Linked DNA regions of Homo sapiens. The protein of the gene in region 4 interacts with the protein of the main gene of each other region in a pairwise test. Each region holds a gene or a part of one and is shown on either strand. Other genes may lie near its edges. The genes, in order: TRIM42, KRTAP6-3, ZNF34, MAPKBP1, KRTAP13-1 and APTX.

Region 1 (3,847 bases), on a different chromosome or scaffold from region 4:
GGGCACGTAGTTTATTGAGTGCAGCCGGAGCTGTGGGTCAGGCCTGTAGGTGGTCTGGATGCCGTCCTCGATCTGGTCCACCAGGATCTTGGCTGACTGCAGGAATGCCACCTGGCCAGTCTCCTTCAGGGCTTCCTTGGAGTAGGCGATCAGACCATCCATCTCGTTCACTTTCATGGTTGTAACATACACATATTTTTCAATTTCCTTCTGCCTGGACACTTCTAGATTCTCTATCTGCTCCATGATGATCTTCTCTTTCTCCTGAAGAATGCTGCGCAACTTGAGAAAGCCATTTCTGATCTCTTTTCGCTTTGCCTCCTTGTCAGCTTTAAAGCTGTTTTTTAAGATGTTGAATTCCATTAGGTCATTATCAATTTCATATCGGACTGCAAAAATGCCAAGTTAGTTACTTTTAAAATTTTCATCTCCCCAGGTGTCAAAGTCAGTAGCAAACTAGAACAAATTACCCTAGGCTCCAAGGAGGTGAATGAAGAGGGAGGGAAGGCACTTGTAGTTGGGCTGAAACAGGCTGGAATAGGTTTATGAAATGAATTTGGTCCTCCTTAGTACACCCTTCCCCTTCTTCCCCCTCTGATCCTTCTCTGGGATATTTCTATCTTGTAACAGTAATCCCTATGGCCTTGAGTCTGAGACTGGAAGTTCAAGCCCACCCTTGATATTGGTTTTTACCAGATTTCAGTTGTCTGCAAGTTGGACTTGAGAAGAGGTGAAGTCACAAAATGACTGGTGCCTGCTTTTCCCTGTAGGAAACCTAAGCTTTTGCAGTGGTAAGAGGAAGAACTAAGTTTCTGCCGACTACTTCTAAAGGTTGTCTTGCATCATTCGCTAAGCCTCCAGCCCTATACAACAGTGGGAAATCAGCAAAGCTTCCCTTCATTGAGGTGGCTCTCTTAGATGCCCTTTTCCCCCCTTTGTCCCTCTTGTGGTTCAGCTATGTCACTTCTCCTTGCCTTTCCCCCACTCCTTTCAAAAAAGAGTCTGCTGTCACACTTCAAGGAAAACCAGTTTACCCTGTGTCCCCTCATATGGCATTTGGATTTTAAGTTCACTCAGTCATTCAACAAACATTTACTGGAGCCCTGTTACATGCCATGTATCTTTTAGGCACTAAGAATATGGATATGATTATGAGAGGGCATCTGTGCTCAAGGTATGAATAAATCCAAAGATACTACAGTTTAAGGATGCTATGGCAGGGTAAGCACGTGGCACATCTCTATCTGTGAAATGAGCTTTATATGAAAGGTGAAATGAATACCTTTGTTAGCTTTAAAGGATTTGAGGCATTAAGGAGCAATTTGAAGAATGTCACCCTTCTGTGGTCTATGCTACGGGTAAGGTTCTTCTCATGAAAGGTAAACTCTTCAGTGAATTGATGGGCAATAATCCTTACCAAATTTTACTCAGGAGTGGGGATGACTAGCTATTTTTGCACTTGGTTCATAACATTATCCTGGGTTCATAGGAAGCTGGACTTCTGTGAGTGGTGGTCGTTGTAACAAGGGTGTGCACTTGAATATGGGAAACCCTAGTGTTCTGTCAGATCATGAGAACAGGGACCACATTACCACTATGACTATGGTGTGTAGAGGTGAGCAAATGTATTTGTTGAGTAAAAGCCATTCTTTCCTGTCTTCTAACAACTCATTGGTGAATGCCAGCAGTGTCACTCTCTGGCTAACTCCCTGAAGCCCCAGTGTTTTCTTGCCACCTCCTTCCTCACACTGGCTCAGAAAAGATGAGGTGATGCAGGTGAGACTGAAAGGGAAACTACCAGGGTCCGATTTCAGTGCTGAGAAGTGCTTCTTGCCTTCCCCAATGCACTGTGACTGTGGCAGCCAGAATTCTACTTTGCGCATTATTTTCTTTGACTATTCAATAGTTACCTACTGTTAAAGATACTTGGATAGGAAATTTCTTGCTGTATTAGGGATTGATTAGGCTTATGTAGAGCAAAGTCCTGAGAAGCAGGATAAAAATTTCTTAGATGAGAGGAAAAAGGCATCTCCAGGAGGAGAAAAAAGACAGAGGAAGCCACAAATGTCCCACCCCAAACCTCTGCAAATATGAAACCTCTGCAAGAGCTGATTTTAAAGCAAAGTCAAATCAAGGTCTCTTTTAGGCAATACACTTAAAACTAGTTGTTATTTATTAAACACTTTTTATGGACCAGATCCATATGTTTTTATCTATCACATATATCTTCTTACAATGAAGATATTGTTTCCACTTATAGATGAAAAAGCTTGAGGCCCTGGGAAGTTAAGTGACTGTATAGTGTTACACATCAGGTAAATGGGAGAAACTAGGCTCTGTCCCTAATTCTATTTGTCTAGCTCCAAACTAGGTTCTTAATTGCTTCAGCTGTGGCTCTCAGCCCTCTCTGAGTACCAGAATAACCTGAGAGAGTGTTAAAAAAAAACTCTTCTCTTGGACTCATCTGCTAAGATTCTGAATCAATGGGCCTGTGTTGGGGCTCAGGAAGCCAGGTGAGGCAGTTTTCAGTGAGGTTTAGAATCGAACCCAGAGAATCTCCTGGGATCATGATAAAGATGCAGATTCTGATGCACTAGGCCTGGGGTGGGTCCTGAGATTCTGCATTTCTAACAAGCTCTCAGGTGATGCCAATGCTACTGGTCCTTGAACCATACTTTGAGTGGCAGGGACCTAAACTTTTGAGCTCCCTTTATTTCAGTGGTTCTCGACCTTGGCTGCACCATAGAATCACATGAGGAGTTTTTTAAAATTCCATCTTGCTGAGCCTGCACCTCTATGTGGATGGGACAGGGGCATCAGTTTTTAGTAAAGCTTCTAGAATGGATCTTCTCCCTAGGTCCCCCAGTTTCTCAATGTGTATTCCCAGATCACTTGCTTTTGAATAACCTGGAGATCTGTTTAGAATGCCAATTTATGGTACCTCCCAGAAAAGTGAATCAAATGCTCACGAACAAGTTTGAACCCTGGTTAAAAAATTTTTGTGTGTCTGTTTCTTCAGCAAGGATGAAAGGTTAAATTCTTTACTTACAGCTAATATCTAATTTACCAATTATCCCTTTTTCCCTTTCCAACTGCTGGGTTTCCTGGAATTTGGACAGGCATTTTCCCCCCACCTTGAATTGAGCTTTGTTGTCTGCTCAAATTTTAGGTGCCCTGGACTCAGAAAACTATCCTAAGTTTCTCCTGTATTAAGGACGAGGTTCTCTACAGAGGGATGGAAGGCACAGTAGGTTGTAGGCGGCAGTGCCTTCACCATGCTGAGGACCCAAAGAATCCAGCCAAGCCCTGGCCTAGGGAGGCAGTGAGTCCCACCTTCAGAAAACCCTTTTGGAACCAACAGTTCTACCATTTTCTTGGTAATGTGGTTCCTGCAGGGTTCCTTTAATATGAAGTCTTCCCTGGTGGTGGTTCCAAAATTAAATAAATGTCAATTGACAAGCAAGGTTTCCAGGTATGTGGCCATTGAGAAAAATTAAGGTATTCCTGAAGCTACTGAGAGGTCCGGGGTGATGTGGTCATTAGCAAAGCCTGTTTCTGACCCACCTTTACATCCAATGGGACCTTTCTGTGCAGGTCAAGGAAAAGCTGCCTCCCTCCCAAATGTGTAGGCCTATCTGAATGATGGAGACTAACAGATCTGACAAAGAGAAAGGCCTGGGTTGATCTGGTGCACTTTGGTAACTGACTGTAGGCCACTCCTTAAGGAAACAGACCATGGATGGTAGTGGTGGTTCCCCTTCCCTCCCCTTCAATCTCTTCATCTTCAGATTCTGGTCACTGCTTAGCACAAAGTAGATTGTCAAATGAATATTGTGGAATTAATGAT
Region 2 (2,600 bases), on a different chromosome or scaffold from region 4:
GGAAAGCATCTGGAGATTTCTCAAAGAACTTAAAGCAGAACTACCATTTGACCCAGCAATCCCATTACTGGGTATATACCCAAAGAAAAAAAAATTGTTCTACCAAAAAGAAACATGCACTTGTCTGTTCATCGCTGTGCTATTCACAAGAGCAAAGACATGGAATCAACCCAGATGTCTAACAATAGTTGACAAAAGATAATGTGTTTCATGTGCACCATGGAATACTATGTAGCCACAACAAAGAGTGGAAATCATATTCTTTGCAGCACCATGGATGCAGCTGGAGGTGATTATCCTAAGCACATTAATGCAGGAACAGAAAATCAAATACCACAGGTTTTCACTTATAAGTAGGAGCTAAAAATTGAGTGCACATGTATATAAACATGAAAGCAATAGACACTGGGACTCTTGGAGTGGGGATGGTGGGGGGTGGTAAGGGTTGAAAAACTACCTTTCACATATTACCTCAGTGGCATGCAATTCACCCATGTAACAAATATACACATATAACCCTTGAACCTAAAATAAGAGTTGAAAAAAATAACGATAAAAGCAAAAAATCAAAGAAAAAAATTTTGGACAATAAATAAGATACAAACACCAAGATTTCTCTTGTGGATTAAATGTGTTTATTAGGTCAGCAGAGAAACAAACTACAGCATGAAAGTCATCAAAGGAGTCACTGTGACACCATCATCCTGATAAAAGGAGAAGTGACAGGTGAACTTCACCTTATCCCACTTCATGATGGAAACTCAGGGTATTTTTGGGTTAGATGGTAGATCAACAACAGATCATATTAGACTTCCACTGCAGGATATCATCAATCAAGGGAAAGGCTCAGAGCATGTGGGCTTCAGAATTGGTGAATTGCAATGTCACAGGATAGAGGGTGAGAGTCTCCCATGGTGTCCTCAATAGTAGTAGCCAAAGCTGGAGCCATAGCCAGAGCCGCACCTATAGCCACAGCCACAGAAGGAGTGGGAGACATAGCCATAGCCACAGCCATAGCCACAGTCCAGGCCTCTGTAGCCACAGCCACAGAAGGAGCCATAGCCACAGCCCAGGCCTCCATAGCCACAGTCCAGGCCTCCATAGCCAAAGCCCAGGCCTCCGTAGCCACAGCACCCATAGCCACAGCCGCCATAACCACAGCCCAGGCCTCCGTAGCCACAGCACCCATAGCCATGGCCACCATTGTAGTTTCTGTAGTAGCTGCCACACATGGTGTTGGTTGTTGAGGTCATCCTTGGGTAGGAAGGAGTGTAGGTGACTTCAGTATGGACACTTCTCCGCAGAGGGCCTTTTATATGCCTCAGTGAATCAGAACATAGCGTGCCCCTGCAAAAATATCTCTAAAGGCCTTTCATTGTGCTGAGAAGTTCTGGCCCTTACGTATCTCTCTGATTTCATATCCTGCTACTCTCCTCCATTTATCTATAATGCTCAAACTCTGCTGGCTTTTTGTCTTTTAAAATGCAGCAGGTTTCTTCTCACAATAAGGCCCTGGCCTCTGCACTTACTGATTTCTCTTTCTTAAAATAATACCAGGAATATTTGACTCATTTTCTATTTCAATTGAAATGTTCACTTCCCAGAGAGACTTTTAATGGCCACCTTATATTAATTAGTCTACCTCCAGTAACTGAACTTAATGTAACTCACTGAGTTTTATTATTCTCACAGGATTCTTCACTGTTAGAATCTATTTCATTCATTTTTAAAATCAGTCTCTCTATCCCTTCTGTCTCATTGTAACCTGCAGAAAGTAGAGACTTTGTCTATTTTGTTCATCTGCTCAATCTGCATTTCTTATAACGGTGCCTGATACAGCAGATTCTTAATAAAGATTTGATGAATTAGTGAAAAAATAACCAAATGAATGACATGATGCAACTTTCTATACTCAAATTCTGTGTAGAATAATCACAATCTTTGTTCTATGCTTGGGGTAACTGGGGATAAATTCATGTACTCTGGGATCCTTTTGGATCATATGCAAACCAGTGGAGGAATTTATCATGGTGATTTTTTTCTGGTTTGAGAATCCATGCCTTTTCCGATTGTTAAGGTGGTGGTATATATCCACTAAAGTTTATGAACTACTGTGTGCAGTTCCGAAATTCTGACTAAATGTTCTACTTGCCTCTTATTGATATGATACTTTGCCAGTCTCACATTGATCTACAAAGTATGATCCCTAGGTTGATCATTGGTAGTTCTGCTACATTTAAGAGTAGCAAATGAATTAATATGTACTATTATTTGTTTATATTTTATTCTAATTGCTTTATCATAATAAATGACTAATAATTCATTAATAATATTTAATAAGTGGATGGAATAAACGTGACAAATTATCACAGGGAGCTTCATAGAAAGTCAGCTCTCATAATTAAGGCTATCACCAGAATGCATTTGGGCCAGAAATGTGGTTTGCTGATGTTATTCTATCCAAGTCACCACTTTAAAAAATAGTAACAGGAATTCTGCTAGAAGATGAAAAGTATTTTTACAATACTTTTGGAAATTTGGAATTAATATATTTTAAAATAAGCAAATTCATTAAATATAAAAAGAAGGTAAAATATGTG
Region 3 (3,847 bases), on a different chromosome or scaffold from region 4:
TATTTGTGTACCACAGAAGGCAGGAAACTAATTTTATTTTCCAATGGAAAACCAGTTGTGCCAATACCATTTATTGTCCTTCTTCATTGCCATTAATATTGCAGGTATATTAACATATCCATAGATGTCTTCCATTATCTTTTTTCCTATACTTAAACTTCACTTTCCATTACCATAGCCTAAGTCTTGATATCTAGTAGGGCACACCCTTGCCTCCTTTGGTTGTTTTTTTGGTATTGCCTTAGCTAATCTTTTTTTTTTTTTTTCTGGAGACGTAGTCTCGCTCTGTCACCCACGATGGAGTGCAGTGGTGTGATCTCGGCTCACTGTAACCTCCGCCTCCCGGGTTCGCGCCATTCTCCTGCCTCAGCCTCCCGAGTAGCTGGGACTACAGGCGCCTGCCACCATGGCCGGGCTAATTTTATATTGTTAGTAGAGATGGGGTTTCACCATGTTAGCCAGGATGGTCTCGATCTGACCTCGTGATCCTCCCGCCTTGGCCTCCCAAAGTGCTGGGATTATAGGCGTGAGCCACTGCGCCTGGCCACACTGCCTTGGCTAATCTTAGATCGTTACTATTTCATGTGATATTTGGAGTCATTTTGGTCAGATATCATGTCCTGTTGAAATGTTTATTATAATTGCACAAAATAAATTTAACTTGGGGATAATTGATATCTTTATGTTATTGAGCCCTCCTATTTAGAAACATTGTCTGTTTCTCCATAGACCTTTCTAAGGTACTTCAATAAAGTTTTATAATGTTGTTCATTACATACATATCTTTTTTTAAGACTTAATGTACTGTATAGTTTTTGTAGCTATTGTGAATGGTCAGTTTTCGGTTGCTGATTGCTGACAAATAGAAGTGGTATTAATTATTCTCTGTTGACCTTGTATATGGCAATGCTGTGGAACTCCTGTCATTCCAACAGTGGATTGATAACTCTTGGATTTTCTATGTAGATTATTTTTATCATTCTCAAAGAATGATGATTTTGTCTTTTTTCTTCTGATCCTTGTAGCTTATATTTCTTTTTTCTGTAACTTACTGCTTTGGCTAGGATGTTGAATAGCAGCAGGGTGAGGGAACGTCCCTCTCTTGTCACTGAATCTACTACAAGTGCTTCTAATGTGTCCTCTTAGTGTTGCGAACACAAACTTGAATGCATGGAACCCCAGGGTCCCTGAGCCACACTCTGAGAACTACTGCTATGCTTCCCAGGGTCAAGTGATCCTCCCACCTCAGCCTCCCAAGTAGCTGGGACTACAGGCATGTGCCACCAATCCGTGCTAATTTTTTTTATTTTTTGTAGAGACAGGCTGAGCTTGAACTCCTGGGTTCAAGCCATCTTCCCGCCTTGGCCTCCCAAAGTATGGGGATTACAGGCATGAGCCAACCACACCTGGCCTTTTGCTCTTTTTTTTTAATCTATTTAAAATGGTTTTATTTTAACCTGGGAGCATAGATTCAAATTGCCCTAAATATACACTCTTTCCTTTTTTGTTCCTGATAACATTTCCTTTTCTACTTTTCCATCTATTTTCTTTTCTTTTTTTTTTTTTTTTTTTTTTTTTTTTTTTTTGAGATAGGCTTTGGTTCTGTCTCTGTCACCCCAGCTGGAGTGCAGTGGTACGATCTTGATTCACTGCAGCTTCTGCCTCCTGGGCTCAAGCGATCCTCCCACCTCAGCCTCCCAAGTAGCTGGGACTACAGGCACATGCCACCATGCCTGGCTAATTTTTGTATTTTTTGTAGAGAGGGGTTTTGCCATGTTGCACAGGCTGGTCTTGAACTCCTGGGCTCAAGAGATCCACCTGCCCTGGCCTCCCAAAGTGCTGGGATTACAGCCGTGAGCCACCGTGCCCGGCCCTCCTTGAGTTACTTTCTTATTCTGTATCTGATTTCTTTTCTTTTGTTTTTTGTTTTTTGTTTTTGGACAGAGTCTCACTCTGTCGCCCAGACTGGAATGTGCAGTGATGTAATCTCAACTCACTGCAACCTCCACCTCCCGAATTCAAGTGATCCTCCTGCCCCAGTCTCCCAAGTTACTGGGATTACAGGTTCACGCCACCATGCCCGGCTAAGTTTTGTTTTGTTTTGTTTTGTGTCGGAGTCTCACTCTGTGGCCAGGCTGGAGTGCAGTGGTGCGATCTCGGCTCACTGTAACCTCTGCCTCCCAGTTTCCAGTGATTCTCCTGCCTCAGCCTCCCGAGTAGCTGGGATTACAGGTGCCCACCACCATGCCCAGCTAATTTTTATATTTTTAGTAGAGACGGGGTTTCACCAAGTTGGCCAGGATGGTCTTGATCTCTTGACCTCGTGATCCACCCGCCTCAGCCTCCCAAAGTGCTGGGATTACAGGCGTGAGCCACTGCGCCCAGCCCCAAGTTGTGTATTTTTTAGGAGAGATGGGGTTTCACCATGTTGGCCAGGCTGGTCTCGAACTCCTGACCTCAAGTGATCCACCCGCCTCGGCCTCCCAAAGTGCTGGGATTATAGACGTGAGCCACAGCCTGCATTTGATTTCTTGCTGAATACTTATTTATTTCAGGCTTTCCTGTTAAAATGAGTCTATTAAGGATGCACAATTTTCTTTAGGTAGGCTTGGTTCTATTTCCACTTTAGTTTCCATTTCTATATGTCTCTGGGGAGAGGGTTACTTTTCATATATTTCTAATATAACAACAATATGGATAGAAATTGTTTTGCCAAATGATATATTCTTTTGGGATTTGTTGAAACTTTCTCTGTTGCTTTGTTTTTTTTGGTAATGTTCAGTATGTTGAAAACAATGTGTGTTCTCTATGTTTTAAGCATGAGATTGTTTACTTGACCCACTTGTTTCTGAGGGAAGTATGTTAAAAATCTCGACTGGTCATGGTGGCTCCTGCCTGTAATCCCAGCACTTTGGGAGGCCAAGGCGGGCAGATCACAAGGTCAGGAGATCAAGACCATCCTGGCCAGCACGGTGAAACTCCGTCTCTACTAAAAATACAAAAAAAATTAAACGCACCTGTGGTCCCAGCTACTTGGGAGGCTGAGGCAGGAGAATGGCGTGAACCCGGGAGGCAGAGCTTGCAGTGAGCCAAGATCGCGCCACTGTACTCTAGCCTGGGCGACAGAGTAAGACTCCGTCTAAAAAAAAAAAAACTCACTCCAGAGGAGGATTTACCAGTTCCTGTTTGGTAGATCCATACTGTTTGTAATTATTACAGCTTTTTGGTGGGCTTTTAGTAATATGCAGTGTTTTATTTTTATTTTTATTTATTTATTTATTTATTTATTTATTTGAGATGGAGTCTCGCTCTGTCGCCCAGGCTGGAGTGCAGTGGTGCGATCTCAGCTCACTGCAAGCTCTGCCTCCCGGTTCACACCATTCTCCTGCCTCAGCCTCCCAAGTAGCTGGGACTATAGGCCCCCGCCACCACGCCCGGCTAATTTTTTTTGTATTTTCGGTAGAGACAGGGTTTCACCGTCAGCCAGGATGGTCTCGATCTCCTGACCTCGCCATCCACCCGCCTCAGCCACCCGAAGTGTTGGGATTTCAGGGGTGAGCAACCACGCCTGGCCAGTAATATGCAGTGTTTTTTTTATTCCTATTAGTGATTTTCGCTTTCTTTGCTTTTCTTTTTTTGGAGATGAAGTCTTGCTCTTGTCCCCCAGGCTGGAGTGCGATGGCGCGATCTCGGCTCACTACAACCTCCGCCTCCCGGGTTCAAGCGATTCTCCTGCCTCAGCCTCCTGAGTAGCTGGGATTACAGGAGCCCGCCACCACGCCCGGCTAATTTTTGTATTTTAGTAGAGACAGGGTTTCACCACATGGTGGCCAGGCTGGTCTCGAAC
Region 4 (3,847 bases):
CAGGGGTCAAGTGTCAGCTGGGGAGGCAAGAGACTGCTGACCTGCACTGCTCCATTCCACCCCACTGAACCATTCTCATTCTAGAAAGTTATTTGAAGCAGAAAAGAGCAACTGTGTGGCCAAGCATGTTGGTTGAAGGGGCTAGCTTTATGCCTTCAAAGACTTCTGCAGGAAACGAATCTTTTCAGCTCCTCTAGAAAGGGATTATTTCCCTACCCCTCTTTTTCTGGCCAGTAAATTCTGGAAAGAAACACTTTGTCAAGTACAAATTCTAATTCTCCTCCATTCTCTGAGTCACTGTCTTCTTAGCTCCAAGAGACAGAGCCTTGATTCTTCCTTTGGCATCCCCTCCAGAAAAACATTGTGGTGGCCTCCAACAAGGTGTCCAGTCGGGTGACAGCAGTGTCCTTCTCTGAGGATTGCAGCTACTTTGTCACTGCAGGCAACCGACACATCAAATTCTGGTATCTCGATGACAGCAAGACCTCAAAGGTGAGGTGCTGAAGCTGGGAGTAGCCACCAAGGCCCCTGGCAGGGCCTGCCCAGCCCAACCCAGGAGACTCTGCCCCACTTGGGCCTCTCTCTGCATTCCCAGCAGTCATGCAGAAGTTTTGGATGAGCCAGATGCTGTCTGGGCTGAGGAGTAGGCCCAAAGAGCAAGGAGGTGCTGGAGGCGTCCCCTGTACTCTCCTAGGGCCCAGTTTCCAGGGGCAGGCTCTGGGGTGGATGGGGGTGTAACAGTGGTGTGCCTCCACAGGTGAATGCCACTGTGCCCTTGCTGGGCCGCTCAGGGCTGCTGGGAGAGCTACGGAACAACCTATTCACTGATGTGGCCTGTGGCAGAGGAAAAAAGGCGGACAGTACCTTCTGCATCACGTCCTCAGGGCTGCTGTGCGAGTTCAGTGATCGAAGGCTTTTGGACAAGTGGGTGGAGCTGAGGGTAAGTACCTCCGTCCCCAGGGGTAGGGTCTGCTCATGTCTCAGCTCAGGGGAGAACTAGTGCCCAGGGCTTCAGACTAGGGGCTGGTCCCTTGTGCATACGGGAGATCCCAGGAGAACGAAGCTTGGGGGAGCTAGAGCTTGGCCCATTTCCAGCCCTTGGTGATCTGTATAACTGCCTCCTCTCTGCTCTTTCTGTCTCTTTCCCCTGCTTTCCTCTTCCGCTCAGAACATAGACAGCTTCACAGTAAGTGGTGCCTGCACCTTCCTCTCTTTCTCATGCTATTTCTTTCTCTTCACTGGGCTTTTCCTACTGGATCCTCTGGTGCCTAGAAGAATCCTCGGTTCCTAATCCCTGGCTGGACAGGGCTGAGGGGCTCAGAACAGGGCAGCTGGGCGGCTTTTCCCTTGCCCCTGCCTTGGCCGGTCCCTCCTCTTGGCAGGTGGCTGTTGATGGGTGGGGAGGAGAGAAGACTGAGTGGGCAGGTGGCCTTGCTGAGCTGAGCCACTCTGCCCACAGACCACAGTGGCCCACTGCATCTCTGTGAGCCAAGACTACATCTTCTGTGGCTGTGCTGATGGCACCGTGCGCCTTTTCAACCCCTCTAACCTGCACTTCCTTAGCACCTTGCCCCGACCCCATGCTCTGGGGACAGACATTGCTAGCGTCACCGAGGCCAGGTGAGCTATGTGGGCCCCCCTTCCTCCATTTGTAGCCTTACCCCTGCCCAGTCTTTCTTGTCAGTGCCTCAGGGAGCAGGTGAAGAGTGTATTGATGCCCCAAAGATTATTGGGAACACCTCTTTAGACAGAAGAATTTGGGTTTATTGGTACTTGTTGCAACCAAGGAGACCCCACCCCATGGAGAACTGTGGAGAGTCTCAGTAAGTGGGTGTTAGGAGGGACATATGGGATTTGGGTTTGCGTTGGGTGATTTTAGGAATCGTTCAAGGGATTGAAGTATTCTGGTTGGATGCTGTCCGGAACTAGGGGCAATTCTACAGTGGAACATCTTGTTAATTTATCTAAGAGGTGAAGGAAAGGTATGGGGCTAAAGCTGTATTTGGTCAAGAAGCCGCCAGCAGTCATGTAGATGGGAAAGGCGGTGTTTGGTCATTGTCATGGTTCGTTGTGGTTTGTATGGTGATCTTGTTTTTATCTGTGCACAGAGTAGTCTTGTTTTTGTTTTGCCCCATCACAGCCATAGAAGTACCTTGTCTAACGTTGGTGTTCTGTGAAGCTGTGTTCATCCGAACACCATGGCCCAGCAGCTAGTGCTGGGTCAGGTTCCTGCTGATGGCTAGTAGGGGCTCCTTTCTTCTCTCAAGCAACTACTTCCAAACCTGCAGGTCCAGGGAGGGCTCCTCACACACTGCTCCTTCCATTGTGGATTGGCTTCTCTTTTCATTCCCTTCAGTCTGACCAGTGTGCCCTGTCCTCTCCCTACAGTCGCCTCTTCTCTGGAGTGGCGAATGCCAGGTATCCAGACACCATTGCCTTGACCTTTGATCCTACTAATCAGTGGCTGTCTTGTGTGTACAACGATCATAGCATTTATGTTTGGGATGTGAGGGACCCCAAGAAAGTGGGCAAGGTGTACTCGGCTCTGTATCATTCTTCCTGCGTCTGGAGTGTGGAGGTATGTGGGCTGGCTGGCTGGCTGGAGACTGGCCAGGTTGGCTGGGATACCATTTTGAGGACAGAAAATAGGGATCCCCAAGTATAATCTTAGATTCCTGCTGCCTCCCTGTTTCTCCAGTGACTTCCCTGGGATAGATCCTGGGGACTGAGTTTGAATGTTACAGGCTTCCCCAGTGTGCCCCATCCTTAGTTTTGCCTCGGTCATCTTGGACAAGTTATTGAATTTGACCAAGCCTCAGTTTCCTCACCTGTAAAATGGTGTACTTGATTCACCTAATTGTTCTAAGAATAAAATGAAATAATGTAAGTGGGAGACATAGAAGAGTGCCTGATATATAGTGGGTGCTTCCCCTTGGTCATGTTGAAGGGTATATACCAGTTATGTATGGCCTGTGACAGGCACTGGGCTAAGTCCTGGCCACCATTCCCTTTTTCGTCCCATTCCCTTCCATCTCCTTGGGTAGGCAGAGGACTGCTCCCGAATGGAGGTCTGATTGTGTTCCCTCGGCCTCTTCAGGTCTACCCCGAGGTGAAGGATAGTAACCAGGCCTGCCTGCCCCCCAGTTCCTTTATTACCTGCTCCTCAGACAACACCATCCGCCTGTGGAACACAGAGAGCTCCGGGGTGCATGGCTCCACCCTCCACCGAAACATCCTCAGCAGTGTGAGCCCTGAGGCTGTGGGGCCCCGCTTCACCCTCAGTGCCCCCATCCCCACAGCTATTGCACCTTGTTACTGGGAACTGGTCCCTAGGCCTTGGCCTTCCAGCCTTCATTTGGCTGTGCTCTGTGGTCCAAGGGTTTGTTTTGCTCAGCTTTCTTGCCCCTTGCAGCTGTACTGGTCAGGCCTGCCTCATCCACCTTTTCTAACCTGTTCCACTAGGACCTCATTAAAATCATCTATGTGGATGGGAACACCCAGGCCCTGCTGGACACAGAGCTGCCTGGAGGAGACAAAGCTGATGCATCCCTGTTGGATCCCCGCGTGGGCATCCGCTCGGTGTGTGTCAGCCCCAATGGACAGCATCTAGCATCAGGGGACCGTATGGGCACACTTAGGTAATGCCAGGCCCTGGGTGGGTACTGACTGCCTCTCATGGTGCAGAGTTGGGTATTTAGAACTTTAGGGAGGGTTTGGCTCAAAAAGATTGGGCAACAAGATACTTATTTACAAGGCAAAGATAATAACTTCACAATGAGTAAACCTAGCAGAAATCATCTTCACCAAGTGATCAAGGTTAACATCCTCATATCAACATCATTAAGCC
Region 5 (2,833 bases), on a different chromosome or scaffold from region 4:
AGATGTGAATTAAATTATCACTTCTGATGATATCAAAAGGTTATTATCTTCAGCTTTACTTAGTGTGAAACATGAATACAAACCAAGGTGGAATATCAATCCTCCATTCAAGTTTCATGGTATCCCTTATTACACATATGTAGATAACTGAATCATATTGAATTCTCATCAATGAGATGCAGGCATTTGATCATGATTACCAACAAATATTGGGTGACTTCAAAAGTTACTTCAAATCACTTTTGTTTCTCTTCAATTCCATTTTTCTTTTATGTATATCTATAACCATATTGTTCTAAATAGTATTTTTTTCTCTGCAGATTCCTGATATAACTATCAACTAGTTTGCTACCTTATGCTTGTTGGCATAGACACAAGAATCCACATTTTATAAGGGGATCAAGCTAATTCCTGATTCTGATATTTTAATGAATAAAAGTCTGTAAATTTAGTAGACTTCCACTACCTGTAGTTTGAATAACAAAAATCTCTGAGGCCCCCAAAAGTTTGTCTGAATCGCAAACTTCATATGATTTTGAAACCTATTCCTATATATATACACCAATTGTTTCATAATAATTGCCTAATACATCACAACCAAAACCCTAGCAATATAAAACCACCACAAACATAGCTGAATATGAGACCAATGGATTTATTGGATTAAAATGATTTGACTTTTTATACAATTGTGGAAGAAAATCGAATAATATAAATTCTACTTTTAATGTGTATTTCAAGATTTATTTTGAGCTAGTTCTCCAATTACAGTTTTTCAGATGAAGCCTGCCAGCCAGTATTTGGGGACAAAGACAAACTGAGAACTTGATAATTATAGAATAAGAGGCTAATTCTTTCTGTACATGATGAAGACAATAAAGGTTATGAGTAGAGGCATTGAAGGCATTAGCCAACAAAATCAGCAATTTAACAAGATGATCAATAGTAGAAGCCTGATCCACAAGTTGGTCTGTAGCAAGAAGACTGGCAGCTCCTAGAAGCCAAGTAGGTTGGGCGGCAGAATCCAACGCCATAGCCCAGGGAAGGGAAGCCACAGCCTCCATAACCCAGGGATCTGAAGCCACTGGACCCACAGCCCACTGAGTAGCAGCTCCTCGATCCATAGCCCAGGGAGCGGCAGCTGCTGGATCCAAAGCCTAGAGACCCAGAGTAAGTTGTCTGGCAGGGACTGCAGAGCAAGGAGGTTCTGGGACGGTAGCAGGAGGTCTGGCAGGGGCTGGACTCCACATAGGATGTCTGGCAGCTGGTGGGCTCCCAGCAGGTCTGCTGACAGCCCCTATAGAGAGAGGAACCCAGCTGGCACGTGCTGGGAGAGCAGAGGTCAGTGCTGTAGACCTGGTTGCTGGGGTAGGAAAAGCCACAGGAGGAGGCTGGGTAGTGCAGGTAGCCACCACAGGAGCGGGAGGAGAAGTTTCCAGAGCAGCAGTTGTAGGACATGTTGATGGGAGATGTGAGTTCAGCTGAGTTACACTGAGAAGATTCTGAGTTTGCATGCCACATCTGGACAGGACCATTTATATACGTTCAGCCGTGGGTGTGGCACCTTACAGGGTCATCCTTCACACATTTAAGCTCCCACATTTCATATAAGCAACTTAGTAATCTTCTTTGTCATTGCAGTTAACTAACACCCTTCATCTTATATTTATGGAAGAACTCCTTTTGTTTTTACAGCTCTGCGTCAATGAAATGCATTTATGTTACAAATGCTATGACAGTATGTGATTAGTCCCTACTCCATTATGTCCAGGAAAACCCCTCTTATTTTCTCTGCCCATGATTTATACATCTGCTCCTGTTTTGGCTGGGAAATTCTTTCTGTCTTGGGTGGGGATAGCAATGTATTCATCTTTTTTTGTCAGTGGCCTAGAGGCAGAAATCTTATTGTTCACACTCTCCAAAATAGTTTGCCATCTGTTATTTACTATAATCAGTGCTTGTAAGTCCAGTCTCGAGGGCCTATATAAAAGTAAGCCAAAGGAATTGAGAGATAACTAGACATAGATATCATCTTGAACAAATTTTTTTAAAAAATTAGTATTTAGAAAAAAGAAATCAAAACAAAAGCAAAAAATAAATAAATACAAATACAACAATAAGGACCCATGTGAAAAAAAGGAAAGTAGAAGACACTGCTGAGATGAGGTAGGAAACAAGTCAGAGTAGTCACAATAGCAGAAGGATGCTCAGGACTCCATCCTAAAAGCAAATCAAAATGCTTTCAAATAAACTTATTTGATGACTTTTGTATGATGCATTCATATTTGTAAGTGTTCTGGAGCCTACCTGTCTACAACACCTCTAAACCCCCACCTCAAAATGTTGACTGCCTTCTGAGCATTTGCGGGGTAACACCAGCTTCTATGTTTTTCGTGACTCTGTCCCAGCCCTCTTTAAAGAGGTGGATTTAGGTTTTGTGGTGTTGAAAAGTATAATTTGGAGATCCTCATTAAAAACACAATATTAGGAATATAATAATAGATATAAACATGGATATTAACTTAGAATAAAAACTTCCATAGTTAACAAAACCCAAGATGTCACAAAATCAAGACAATAATATACCTTTATCATCATCCTCATCTATAATCTTTTTCTACATTTTTTGGTTGCATAGTCGGTCTTTGATCATCTCTACACATGACAATGGTTTTGTCCACATGATTTTCTGTAGAACAAATGGAAGTAAAACTTGGTGTTTCTTTTAGAAATAGTACATCAAAAATACTTGAATTATTTTTTATGACACAGAAAAGTTTTTTTTTTTTAACATTGCCATTTGTTGTGAGCAACGCCACAGCTGTAACACCCT
Region 6 (3,847 bases), on a different chromosome or scaffold from region 4:
TCAACAATGGCCGAAGCAAAGGGGATGGAGAGCAAGAAGAGCCAGGAGAAATCTGGAAGACATACTTAATTACTGATGACATTTGGGGAATGACAAAGGAATAAAAGGACACACTGGCCAGGTGCGGTGTCTCAGGCCTGTAATCCCAGCACTTTGGGAGCCCAAGGCAGGCGGATCACGAGGTCAGGAGTTTGTGACCAGCCTAGCCAACGTGGTAAAACCCTATCTCTACTAAAAATACAAAAATTAGCCAGGTGTGGTGGCAGGTGCCTCCCACCTACTCGGGAGGCTGAGGCAGGAAAATTGCTTGAACCCAGGAGGCGGAGGTTGCAGTGAGCAGAGATCGCACCATTGTATTCCAGCCTGGGCGATAGGGCAAGGCTCCATCTCAAGAAAAAAAAAAAAAGGCGAGACACTCACCAAAGACTTCAAATTTGGAAGATGCCCATTAACAAAAATGAAAAATACACAAGGAGACATAATTTGGGGATAAAAAGGAAAGTGAAGAGAGAAGGACCAATTTCATATTGAAATGTAATTATTTTAAGTTGCCTGTGGAAGATCCAAGACTCAAGCTGTGATATGTGGGTATGAAGCTCAAGAGAGGGGAATGGACTAAATGCATATATTTGAGAGGCATCAACATGTCACAGAGGCTGAGGCAAAGAGAGAGAGGATGAGATCACCCAATGAGGTGAAACAGGGAATTATGGGCAGAGAGAGATTGCCTCTCTAGACTCCAGACTCTTATCAGTGCTCAAGCCTCTAACATGCCTCTCCCGGAAACCTGCCTATAGTCAAGGCAGCACATATGCCCTCTGCACAAGTTTCATGTCCATAAGCAAAGAAAAAAGAAACCCGATTTTTAAAAATCAGTTTCATTACCATCTGCAAAGACAAGACAATGCAAGGCAAAGTGAGCAAATGACAGCTGAGGAGATGCAAATTCAAATGAATAAGATTAGTGCGAGTATATGAGTACTAAGGAGGTAAAAAGTCCTGTATTAGCCAGTACAGGCTTCCAGAAACCTCCTGGTTAGAGATGGCTAGGAGCCAAGGGGACTGATAAAGAAGAAATGGAGTGGGAGGGGCCATTCCATTTTAAAAAGCACAAGTGACAACACAGATTTCGGCAATGGCAAGCCATAGGTCGGGGTAAAAGCAGACTTAGTTGGCTGAACCAGAGGAGCTGCCTCGGAGAGTCACAAAAAAAGACAGAGGTGTTGAAAGAATACTAGGCTGAAAAGTTTACATTTACCATAATCAAGAGGAGACAACTGCCAGGTTTTGAGCTTCACAGTAAGATAAAACAACAGCATCCAAAGAACACTTAACAGCTGTGTGTAGGCAGTCTAGCATGGAGAAATCCAGAGTCAGAGATTAGTGAGGAGGCTGTTAATATAACGTGAGCCAGAGAGGTCAAAAAGGCAGTTCAGCAAGTCTCTGTGAAGGAGCTGATGCAGGTGCACGAAGAGTCAGCTATAAATCTAAAATCCTAAACCTGGAGCCTCAAATGATGATGGTGTTATGGGCAGGTCCCACTTTTAAATGCTATGCGTTCCAAGGGGCATCTGTTTGCACTTGCTGGAAACAGATGAATGAGCAGGTAACAGACTGAGAAGTGAAATATGTCTTCACTAGGCATTGGGAAATATGTGGTGACTGACTACTCATACTGACAATAAGAGAAGCCAGAAGAGAACAGATTTTGAGAGCAGGGCAAGAGAGGAATCCAGTGAGCAGCAGAGAGCATGGCTGGCAGATGCAGGATAATAAGAACTACCCTTTCTGCCCTCCATCAATACAGATACTTTATTCCCCCAAAGTTCTCAAGTTATGGTGTTCCTTTTTACTACTTCCTGAGAAGCTGAAGTAGTGACTGCACAACAGTTATGTAACCAACCTTAAATAGTAACTTCACCCGTTTCAGCCTCCAATTCCAACTTTTAGAAATGGAGTGTTTTACAATATGGCAAGTGCAGAAGGATGGGTGTTCCTGAATCTTCAACCCAGTCCCTCCAGTAAAACTCCATAAACTGAAAACTATGACAATAGAGGTCATGTCCATTTTCGCTTATCAATATATCTGTAGCACCTAATCTAACACTTGGCATACAGCGGGCATACAATAAATATTTACAAGTGAATTATCAAATGCTATTTACTCTCTGCATGAGAGTAATAATTATCCCAGTTTTCTTTCCTGCCTTCTCTCTCCCTTCCTTCTATGGCTCTTCTTACGATGGAATGCTCTGTTCCTCTCTTTGGGCAATCCCATCCATTCTCACATCTAGGTGGATAAATCCCAATTCTCTATTTTTCACCTCTATATCTTTTTTTTTTTTTTTTTTTGAGACAGAGTTTTGCTGTTGCCCAGGCTGGAATGCAGTGGCGCAATCTCAGCTCACTGCAAACTCCACCTCATGGGTTCAAGCAATTCTCCTGCCTCAGCCTCCTGAGCAGCTGGGATTACAGGGGTGCATTACCACACCTGACTACTTTTTGTATTTTTAATAGAGACGGGGTTTCACCATGTTGGCCAGGCTGGTCTCGAACTCCTGATGTCAGGCGATCCGCCCACCTCGGCCTCCCAAAGTGCTGGGATTACAGGCGTGAGCCACCGCGCCCGGCCCAGCTCTATATCTTTCATTCTAGAGTTGAGGGGATCCGTCAGAAAGAAATTCTGATTATTCCTTAAAGAACTCAAGTGATCTGATAGACCACACAAGGCCAGAAATCAGGTAACCTCAAATAGTGCTGTCCAATAGAATTTTCTGCAATGACGGAAATGTTCTAAACCTGAACTGTCCAATAAATTACCCACCACGTGACAATCGAGCATCTAAAATGTAGCTAGTACAACAGAGAAACTACATTTTTTACTTAATAGTTAAATAACTCCACGTGGCTGGGGGGCTACCATAATATCCACCACAGTCCTGGAAACTTGCCCTGCCCTGATCCATCTCAAGTCCCTCAGGCCTGAAGTTAAGCTCATCATACTGTAACTCCACAGTGCTTATGTATTTCACCTCCCGTTCCTCTTCACAGAACTAGTCCCACTTGCCCATCCCTCTCTCTCCTCTCTTCCCCAAGAAACACATACATACTGGCATACCTGCTTTGTGCTCTGCTCTATTACATTTGAAAGATATTGCATTTTTTACAAATTGACAGTTTGTGGCAAATCTGTGTCAAGCAAGTCTTTCAGTGCCATTTTTCCAACAGCATGTGCTCACTTCAGGTCTCTGTGTCACATTTTAGTAATTCTCACAATATTTCAAACTTTTTCGTTATTATTATATCTGTTACAATGATCTGTGATCAGTGATCTTTGATCTTTGATGCTACTGGAAGAAAATGCCATCTAGGACTTTCACAGGTAGAGAGAAGTCAATGCCTGACTTCAAAGCTTCAAGGACAGGCTGTCTTGTTAGGGACTAATGCAGATGGAGACTTTAAACTGAAGCCAACGCTCATTTACCATTTCAGAAATCCTAAGGCCCTTAAGAATTATACTCAGTCCACTCTGCCTGTGCTCTATAAATGGAACAACAAAGCCTGGACGACAGCATGACTGACTGAATATTTTAAGATCTCTGTTAAGAACTACTGCTCATAAAAAAAAGATTCCTTTCAAAATATTACTGCTCATTGACAATGCACCCAAGATCCCTGATGGAGATATATTATACAGGGAGATAAATATTGTTTTCGTGCTTGATAAAACAACATCCATTCTGCAGCCCATGGATCAAGGAGTAATTCTGACTTTCAAGTGTTATTAATTAAGAAATACATTTCATAAGGGTATAGCTGCTATCAACTGTGATTCTTCTGATGGACC

What was found.
Region 1: the proteins of MAPKBP1 (region 4) and TRIM42 interact in binary tests that used the Homo sapiens proteins (3 or more experiments, as listed by UniProt).
Region 2: the proteins of MAPKBP1 (region 4) and KRTAP6-3 interact in a two-hybrid assay, tested with the Homo sapiens proteins (one large-scale study listed by BioGRID).
Region 3: the proteins of MAPKBP1 (region 4) and ZNF34 interact in a two-hybrid assay, tested with the Homo sapiens proteins (one large-scale study listed by BioGRID).
Region 5: the proteins of MAPKBP1 (region 4) and KRTAP13-1 interact in a two-hybrid assay, tested with the Homo sapiens proteins (one large-scale study listed by BioGRID).
Region 6: the proteins of MAPKBP1 (region 4) and APTX interact in a two-hybrid assay, tested with the Homo sapiens proteins (one large-scale study listed by BioGRID and IntAct).

Annotation. Positions count from the first base shown.
Region 1 is NC_000003.12:140,684,264-140,688,110, reverse strand, and holds part of TRIM42 (tripartite motif-containing protein 42), read right to left. Parts: intron 390-3,847; coding exon 1-389.
Region 2 is NC_000021.9:30,591,099-30,593,698, reverse strand, and holds KRTAP6-3 (keratin-associated protein 6-3), read right to left. Parts: upstream 1,260-2,600; 5' UTR 1,233-1,259; coding exon 921-1,232; 3' UTR 644-920; downstream 1-643.
Region 3 is NC_000008.11:144,780,582-144,784,428, reverse strand, and holds part of ZNF34 (zinc finger protein 34), read left to right. Parts: exon of another isoform or gene 1-104; intron 105-2,555; exon of another isoform or gene 2,556-2,602; intron 2,603-3,463; exon of another isoform or gene 3,464-3,554; intron 3,555-3,847. UniProt on the Homo sapiens protein: May be involved in transcriptional regulation.
Region 4 is NC_000015.10:41,812,162-41,816,008, forward strand, and holds part of MAPKBP1 (mitogen-activated protein kinase-binding protein 1), read left to right. Parts: intron 1-354; coding exon 355-492; intron 493-757; coding exon 758-940; intron 941-1,168; coding exon of another isoform or gene 1,169-1,186; intron 1,187-1,459; coding exon 1,460-1,620; intron 1,621-2,388; coding exon 2,389-2,578; intron 2,579-3,097; coding exon 3,098-3,244; intron 3,245-3,462; coding exon 3,463-3,638; intron 3,639-3,847. UniProt on the Homo sapiens protein: Negative regulator of NOD2 function. It down-regulates NOD2-induced processes such as activation of NF-kappa-B signaling, IL8 secretion and antibacterial response. Involved in JNK signaling pathway.
Region 5 is NC_000021.9:30,394,712-30,397,544, reverse strand, and holds KRTAP13-1 (keratin-associated protein 13-1), read right to left. Parts: upstream 1,515-2,833; 5' UTR 1,459-1,514; coding exon 940-1,458; 3' UTR 723-939; downstream 1-722. UniProt on the Homo sapiens protein: In the hair cortex, hair keratin intermediate filaments are embedded in an interfilamentous matrix, consisting of hair keratin-associated proteins (KRTAP), which are essential for the formation of a rigid and resistant hair shaft through their extensive disulfide bond cross-linking with abundant cysteine residues of hair keratins.
Region 6 is NC_000009.12:32,991,387-32,995,233, forward strand, and holds part of APTX (aprataxin), read right to left. Parts: intron 1-3,847. UniProt on the Homo sapiens protein: DNA-binding protein involved in single-strand DNA break repair, double-strand DNA break repair and base excision repair.